2 linked regions of the Homo sapiens genome follow. The protein of the gene in region 1 interacts with the protein of each later gene in a biochemical or structural test. Each region holds a gene or a part of one and is shown in the gene's direction. Other genes may lie near its edges. The genes, in order: CSF3R and PTPN11.

Region 1 (3,815 bases):
CAGGGAATGAACACCCCAAGAGGCATCCCTTGACCAATGGGGGGCAGGAGTCAGTGGGTAAATCTTTCCATCTTCCCTCCCATCCAAGGGATAAATTGACCCTCCAGTGGACAGCTCTGAGAAGTGTTCTACATGGCTCTTTGGAAGGTTCCAGCAGGATAGAGCCCCAGTTGTCCATAGAGGTGACCAACATGATGATGTAACTTTGTGCTGGCTTTCTCTCCTTCCCTGTTTCATTCTCCCCAGTCCCTTATCTGCTGCTAGGATCTTCTCAAAATAAACTACCAGCATGCAATTCCTCATCTCAGGTTCTGCTCTCTAGGGGTAGCCTAGCTTAGATAGCTGGGAAGGCGGAAGAATGCTCTTCCTCACTGCTCCTTTCCCTGCTCTTTCCTGGAAGGCAAGTATAATAACTGTGGCTGTCACTGTCATTTCCTATGTTCCAGGCACTGTGAAAAGCCCTTGACTTGCATCATTTTGTGTCTTCCTCTCAAAGTCCCATGCAGTATAGGCTGCTGTTACTTCCATTTTGCAAAGAAACGAAGGCTCAGAGAAGTCAAGCAACCTAGTCAAAGCTGCACAGTGACAGACAAGGATTAAGATCAGCTCTGACTCCAAAGCCCATGGTCTTAAACAACCCTTCTGCCTACAGGTGAACATCAAGTTGGTGCTATGGCAAGGCTGGGAAACTGCAGCCTGACTTGGGCTGCCCTGATCATCCTGCTGCTCCCCGGAAGTGAGTATGGCCAAGGATGAGGGTGCAGTGGGGAGGGGAAGCTACAAGGAGAGATATTGGGAATTTCCTTGCACTGCCACATGGCTCCTGGGATTCCCAGAGAATCCCACAAGATTCAAGTCTGAGCCACAGATGTGGGGTAGCTGGTCTCCCACCCACAGACTTCCACAGGCAAACCACCACCCAAGAGGAATGGTGAGACGACCCGGGCTGGTCATCCTGGAAAAGGCCAGTGAGGCGCAGATCTTGTCCGCAAATCTCTACCAAGCTGTCAGAAGCAACCCATGGGTCCTATGCAGCCTTGGTGGGCAGCAAAGGGATCAGGATGGAAGCTACAAGGGGACAGGTTTCATCCTGAAATAAAGAAGCCCAGGCAGAGCTTGGTTTCCAACCATGGAAACTCTGTCTTGAGAGGTAGAGAACTTCCCATCCCCAGGGGTATGCAAGCTAAAGCCAGGATTGATAAAGATGCTGTGCAGCAGGGGTTGGCAAACTTTTTCTGACAGTAATGTTTAGGCTTTGCAGGCCACATACTGTCTCTGTTCCTTGTTTGTTTGTTTGTTTGTTTGTTTGTTCGTTTGTGAGACAGGGTCTCCCTCTGTTGCCCAGGCTGGAGTGCAGTGGCACAATCGCAGCTCACTGCAGCCTCAACCTCCTGGGCTCAAGTGATCCTCCCGCCTCAGCCTCCAAGGTAGTGCAGGGCATGCCACCACACCCAGCTAATTTTTTTTTGTTGTTGTATTTTTTTGTAGAGATGTAGTTTTGCCATGTTGCCCAGGCTGGTCTCAAACTCCTGGGTTCCAGCAATCCACCTGCCCTGACCTCCCAAAGTATGGGGATTACAAGCATGACCCGCCACGCCCTGCCTATTGCATGTTTTTTGGTTTTTGTTTTTTTGTTTTTTGAGATGGAGTCTCACTCTCTTGCCCAGGCTGAAGTACAGTAGCGGGATCTCAGCTCACTGCAACCTCCGCCTGCCGGGTTCAAGCGATTCTCCTGCCTCAGCCTCCCGAATAGCTGGGATTACAGGCACCTGCCACCAGGCCCTGCAAATTTTTGTATTTTTACTAGAGATGGGGTTTCACCATGTTGGCCAGGCTGGTCTCAAACTCCTGACGTCAGGTGATCCACTCACCTCGGCCTCCCAAAGTGCTGGGATTACAGGCATGAACCACCGCGCCCAGCCCTGTGGCATGTTTTTATTTGGTTTTTGCTTTGCTTGTTTTTAACTCTTTTAAAATGTAAGAAACATCTTTAGTTGTTAGGCTATACAAAAATAGGCCACTCAAGCCCTGCTGTAGAGGGCAGAGCATCAGGTAGAGTTTTGAAGCAAACAACCTTGTAAAGTTTCTTCCAGCCTGAAATCCTGAGTCTGGGCCGGGCGCGGTGGCTCACGCCTGTAATCCCAGCACTTTGGGAGGCCTAGGCGGGTGGATCACAAGGTCAGGAGATCGAGACCATCCTGGTGAACACAGTGAAACCCTGTATCTACTAAAAATACAAAAAATTAGCCGGGCATGGTGCCGGGTGCCTGTAGTCCTAGCTACTCGGGAGGCTGAGGCAGGACAATGGCGTGAGCCCAGCAGGCGGCGCTTGCAGTAAGCCGAGATCACGCCACTGCACTCCAGCCTGGGCAGCAGAGTGACTCCGTCTCAAAAAAAAAAAAGAAATCCTGAGCCTGTGAAGCAGTAGAAGCCCTTTGTTGAGAATCATGAACTTGCTCTGTGACCCTGGGCAAACTGCTTCTCCTCTTAGGGCCTTCGCATCCCCATCAGTAAAACGGGCCTAAGAACACCTGAGAGAGGACAGAAAGCATTGCGGGCAAAGTGTATGTTGATTTGTTTGTTTATTTATTTATCAAAAAAAATTCATCGGCCGGGCGCAGTGGCTCATGCCTGTCATCCTAGCACTTTGGGAGGCTGAGGCGGGTGGATCACGAGGTCAGGAGATCGAGACCAGCCTGCCAGCATGGTGAAAACCCATCTCTACTAAAAATACAAAAAAAAATTAGCCGGGCATGGTGGTGCGTGCCTGTAGCCCCAGCTTTTCGGGAGGCTGAGGCAGGAGAATCGCTTGAACCTGGGAGGCGGAGGTTGCAGTGAGCCGAGATTGTGCCACAGCACTCCAGCCTGGGTGACAGAGCGAAACTCCTTCTCAAAATAATAATAATAATAAATATTCACCAAGGTCCTACTCTGTACTAGGCACTGGGAATACAGTAATAAGCAAACAGCCAAGGTCTGCTGGCCTCACAGAATTTATAGTCTAGCTGGAGTGATAGATAAGTAAATAATCATAAGACTCTATAATTATGAAGGATAATAAGAGCTTTGAGGAAGTACAGGGACCTTGGCCTCCTCCAGTTCGTTAGTGCCTGGTCTGGTTTCTTCAAGATGCCTAAGCGTTAACCAGGTGAAACAGGGGTGGGAGAGAGAAAGAAGAGTCCCTCCAAAAAGAACAGCATGCCGGGCACAGTGGTTCACATCTGTAGTCCCAGCACTTTGGGAGGCTGAAGCAGGAGGATTGCTTGAGCCCAGGAGCTCAAGATTAGCCTAGGCAACATAGTGAAACCCCATCTCTACCAAAAAAAAAAAAAATCAAAAAATTAGCAAGGTGTGCTGGCATGAACCTGTAGTCCCAGCTACTCAGGAGGCTGAGGTGGGAAGATCACTTGAGCCTAGGAGGTCAAGGGTGCACTGAGCCGTGATCGTGCCACTGCACTCCAGCCTGAGTGACAGAGCAAGAACTTGAAGAAAAAAAAGAAAAGAAAAAGAAAACCAAAACAAAACAACAACAACAAAAAAAAAAAAACAGCAGGGACAAAGATCCAGAGATTAGAAAGATTTTGGAGTTTTCAAAGAATAGCAAGAATGAGCCAGAATAGCTGGAGCTGAGAGACCGGTATAAGCTGGAACTGAGAGGGTCAGGCAGGGGCCAGGCCACAGGAGCTATTGAAGGATTTGAGTGTTTATCCTAATGATGGCAGCAAATACTCACATGCCAGACACTGCTCTAAATGCCTTCCATATGTTATCGCATGTAATCCTTCCAGCAACACTAAGGTAGGGACGATTTTTAT
Region 2 (3,815 bases), on another chromosome or scaffold:
TGACAGAAGACAGACACCATTACATTCAAAGTCAGATTGTCTTTTATTTATTTATTTATTTATTTATTTATTTGAGACAGGGTCTTGCTCTATCACCTACAGATGGGGTTTCACCACGTTGGGTCTGGTGACCCAAATCTTTGGGTGATTTTTCTGCTGGAAGAGGACAAACACCATTACATTCAAAGTCAGATTTTCTGTTTTTTTTTTTTTTTTGTTTTTGTTTTTTTAATATTCATTTGTTTATTCATTTGAGACTGGGTCTTGCTCTGTCACGCAGGCTGGAGTGCAACCTCCCTGGGCTCAGTTGATCTTCCCTCAGCCTCTTGAGTAGCTGGGACTACAGGTGTGTGCCACCATGCCCAGCTAGTGTTTGTATTTTTTGTGGAGATGGTGTTTTGCCGCATTGCCCAGTGTGGTCTTGAACTAGTGCTCAAGAGGCCTGCCTCCTTCAACCTCTCAAAGTGTTAGGATTACAGATGTGAACTACTGTGCCTGATCCAAAGTCAGATTTTCTTTGCTTACTTAGTCAAGTTCGTCTATGCTTTTATTATACTTAATATATTAGTATAGTTACTGTATTAGTATATTAGCATATTTAATATATTATTATACTTATCATACTTGAGTATATTGAGTATATTTACACTTTTAGTATATTTGTATACACACACCACATTTTTATTATTTATCTTTTTTTTGAGACAGAGTCTCCCTCTGTCTCCCAGGCTGAAGCACAGTTGGCTCACTGCAACCTCTGCCTCTTGGGCTCAAGTGATTCTCGTGCCTCACCCTCCTGAGTAGCAGGGATTACAGGTGTCCACCACCAAGCCTGGCTAATTTTTGTATTTTTAGTGGATATGGGGTTTTACCATGTTGGCCAGGCTGGTCTCGAACTCCTGACCTCAAATGATCTGCCCGCCTTGGCCTCCCAAAGTGCTGGAATTACTGGCGTGAGCCACTGCACCCAGCCTATTATCTGTCTTTTGATGGACATTTAAGTTGTCTCTATATACTAGCTATTGTGAATAATGCTGCAGTGAACATGAGAGTGCTTGAAAACACTAATGTAACATAAAGGTAACAAATAATAAATGTCATGTGTTTATCTTGAAAGGAACTGAAATACGACGTTGGTGGAGGAGAACGGTTTGATTCTTTGACAGATCTTGTGGAACATTATAAGAAGAATCCTATGGTGGAAACATTGGGTACAGTACTACAACTCAAGCAGGTGAGCAGATTGGAAAGCTCAAGCTTTCTCCTTAAAAACTTAAAACAAATCCTAATAGAGAATTTTGCAAACATACAGAGGTAGACAGAATAGTATCATCAGCCTCCATGTACCCATTGCAGCTTCAACTATCAAATCTTTTTTTTTTTTTTTTTTTTTGAGACAGTCTTACTCTGTCACCCAGTCTGGAGTACAGTGTTGCAATCTTGGCTCACTACAACCTCTGCTTCCTGGGTTCAAGCGATTCTCCTGCCTCAGCCTCCTGAGTAGCTGGGACTACAGGTGCCCACCACCATGCCCGGCTAGTTTTTGTGTTTTTAATAGAGATGGGGTTTCACCATGTTGGCCTGGCTGGTCTTGAATTCCCGACCTCAGGTTTTCTGCCCGCCTTGGCCTCCCGAAGTTTTGGGATTACAGGCGTGAGCTACCACGCCCGGCCCTAAATCTTTTCTTATTATGATTCCACTCACTGACTGCCGCTATAGTACTTGGAAACATATTCCAGATTTATATTATTCCCATATTTATCTGTAAAAGGCATTACAGAGGTTCTTTTTTTTTTTTTTTTTTTTTGAGATGGAGTTTTGCTCTGTCGCCCAGGCTGGAGTGCAGTGGCGTGTTCTTGGCTCACTGCAACCTCTGCGTCCCGGGTTCAAGAGCTTCTCCTGCCTCAGCCTCCTGAGTAGCTGGGATTATAGGTGGTGCCACTACACCCAGCTAATTTTTGTATTTTTAGTAGAGATGGGGTTTCACCATGTTAGCCAGGCTGGTCTTGAACTCCTGACCTCAAGTGATCTGCCTGCCTCAGCCTCTCAAAGTGCTGGGATTATAGGCATGAGCCACTGCATCTGGCCTAAGGCTGTACAGAGTTTTAAAGCAAGTTTTCATTATAGATCCACTTCTGGTTACCTTTAGGTAACCTCACTTATTCACTTTGGCATTGTTGCTATTTCAAATTTCACCTTTATGATAGTGGAAAATGATATAATCTCTCTAAATAATGTGGTCTATTCATAAAGAAAAATAGGCTTGAATTTATATCAGCAGAGTAAAGTGTATGTGAAGACTGAAGAAAGATACATTTTCTGGCTGAACAGAAAACACGGTGAAACGATTTGAAAACTTTTATTGTGAATTACAGGGTCCTATGAACCCTCTGTCCGTGCCTTTATGAATATCAACATAGACATGTTTTTTTTTTTTTTTTTGCATTAACACCGTTTTCTGTAATATTTTCTTTATTTTACATCAACTGCTGTACTCGATCAGCCCCTTAACACGACTCGTATAAATGCTGCTGAAATAGAAAGCAGAGTTCGAGAACTAAGCAAATTAGCTGAGACCACAGATAAAGTCAAACAAGGCTTTTGGGAAGAATTTGAGGTAAGTTATTAAAAAACTGTTTTTACGTGAGTTGTTATATCCTATTTTTAGTGGAGGAGAAGTTGCTCTTGTGTTTGGAATTGGACCTGAGAGACTTGAAACTGACGTCCTTTTTTAATTCGGCCATTGATTGACACGGAGCAAGTTGCTGAGAGGGCTTCTTCGAAACAGAAGAGCATTGTGTTCTGAGGGAAGGGAGTTGGCAGTGAGTAGTCAATGGATGTGCTAGCCGCTCCATTTGGCTCTTTTGGTTTGGACTGGTGGCAAAATCTCAGAGAAACAAAAGGATCTAATTTCTTCGAAAGATTTCCAGCATGCACTGGGGTCTTTAGAAACAATCTATAGCCTTAGTGCAGCAAATGAGTATGAGTAAAAGAGAAACACCTTGTGGTGGCTTTTTTTTTTTTTTTTTTGAGACAGGGTCTCGCTCTGTCGCCGAAGCTGGAGTGTAGTGGCGTGATCTCGGTTTACTGCAGCCCCGTCCTCCCTGGGCTCAAGTGATCTTCCCATCTCAGCCTACTGAGTAGCTGGGACTACAGGCACATGCCCCTATGCCTGGCTAATTTTTGTATTTTTGGTAGAGATGAGGTTTTGCAGTGTTGCCCAGGCTGGTCTTGAACTCTTGGGCTCAAGTGATCCTCCTACTTAAGCTTCCCGAGTAGCTGGGACTACAGGCACACGATACCATGCCCATCTAATTTTTGTATTTTTTTGTAGAGATGGGGTTTTGCAGTGTTGCCCAGGCTGGTCTTGAACTCTTGGGCTCAAGTGATCCTCCAGCTTTGACGTGCCAAATGTGGTGGCTTTAATTTCAGAGTTCAAATTGATAACTCTGGTAAGTTAAGTGAACTGATTTCTTTTTTTTTTAAATTATTTTTGTTGATTATACTTTAAGTTCTGGGATATATGTGCAGAACGTGCAGGTTTGTACATAGGTATACATGTGCCATCATGGTTTGCTGCACACATTAACCCATCATTTAGGTTTTAAGTCCTGCATGCATTAGGTGTTTGTCCTAATGCTCTCCCTCCCCTTTAATGCATCAGTGAAAAAGTGATGATAGGCTGGGCGTGGTGGCTCACTCCTGTAATCTCAGCACTTTGAGAGGGTGAGGCAGGTGGACCACTTGAATCCAGGAGTTTGCCCCCATCCCCAGACAGTGTGTGTGATGTTCCCCTCCCTGTGTCCATGTGTTCT

The links.
Region 2: the proteins of CSF3R (region 1) and PTPN11 interact in far-western blotting, tested with the Homo sapiens proteins (one study listed by BioGRID).

The regions. Positions count from the first base shown.
Region 1 is NC_000001.11:36,476,354-36,480,168, reverse strand, and holds part of CSF3R (granulocyte colony-stimulating factor receptor isoform a precursor), read left to right. Parts: intron 1-88; exon of another isoform or gene 89-182; intron 183-652; 5' UTR 653-672; coding exon 673-736; intron 737-3,815. UniProt on the Homo sapiens protein: Receptor for granulocyte colony-stimulating factor (CSF3), essential for granulocytic maturation. Plays a crucial role in the proliferation, differentiation and survival of cells along the neutrophilic lineage.
Region 2 is NC_000012.12:112,453,447-112,457,261, forward strand, and holds part of PTPN11 (tyrosine-protein phosphatase non-receptor type 11), read left to right. Parts: intron 1-1,117; coding exon 1,118-1,234; intron 1,235-2,503; coding exon 2,504-2,617; intron 2,618-3,815. UniProt on the Homo sapiens protein: Acts downstream of various receptor and cytoplasmic protein tyrosine kinases to participate in the signal transduction from the cell surface to the nucleus. Positively regulates MAPK signal transduction pathway. Dephosphorylates GAB1, ARHGAP35 and EGFR.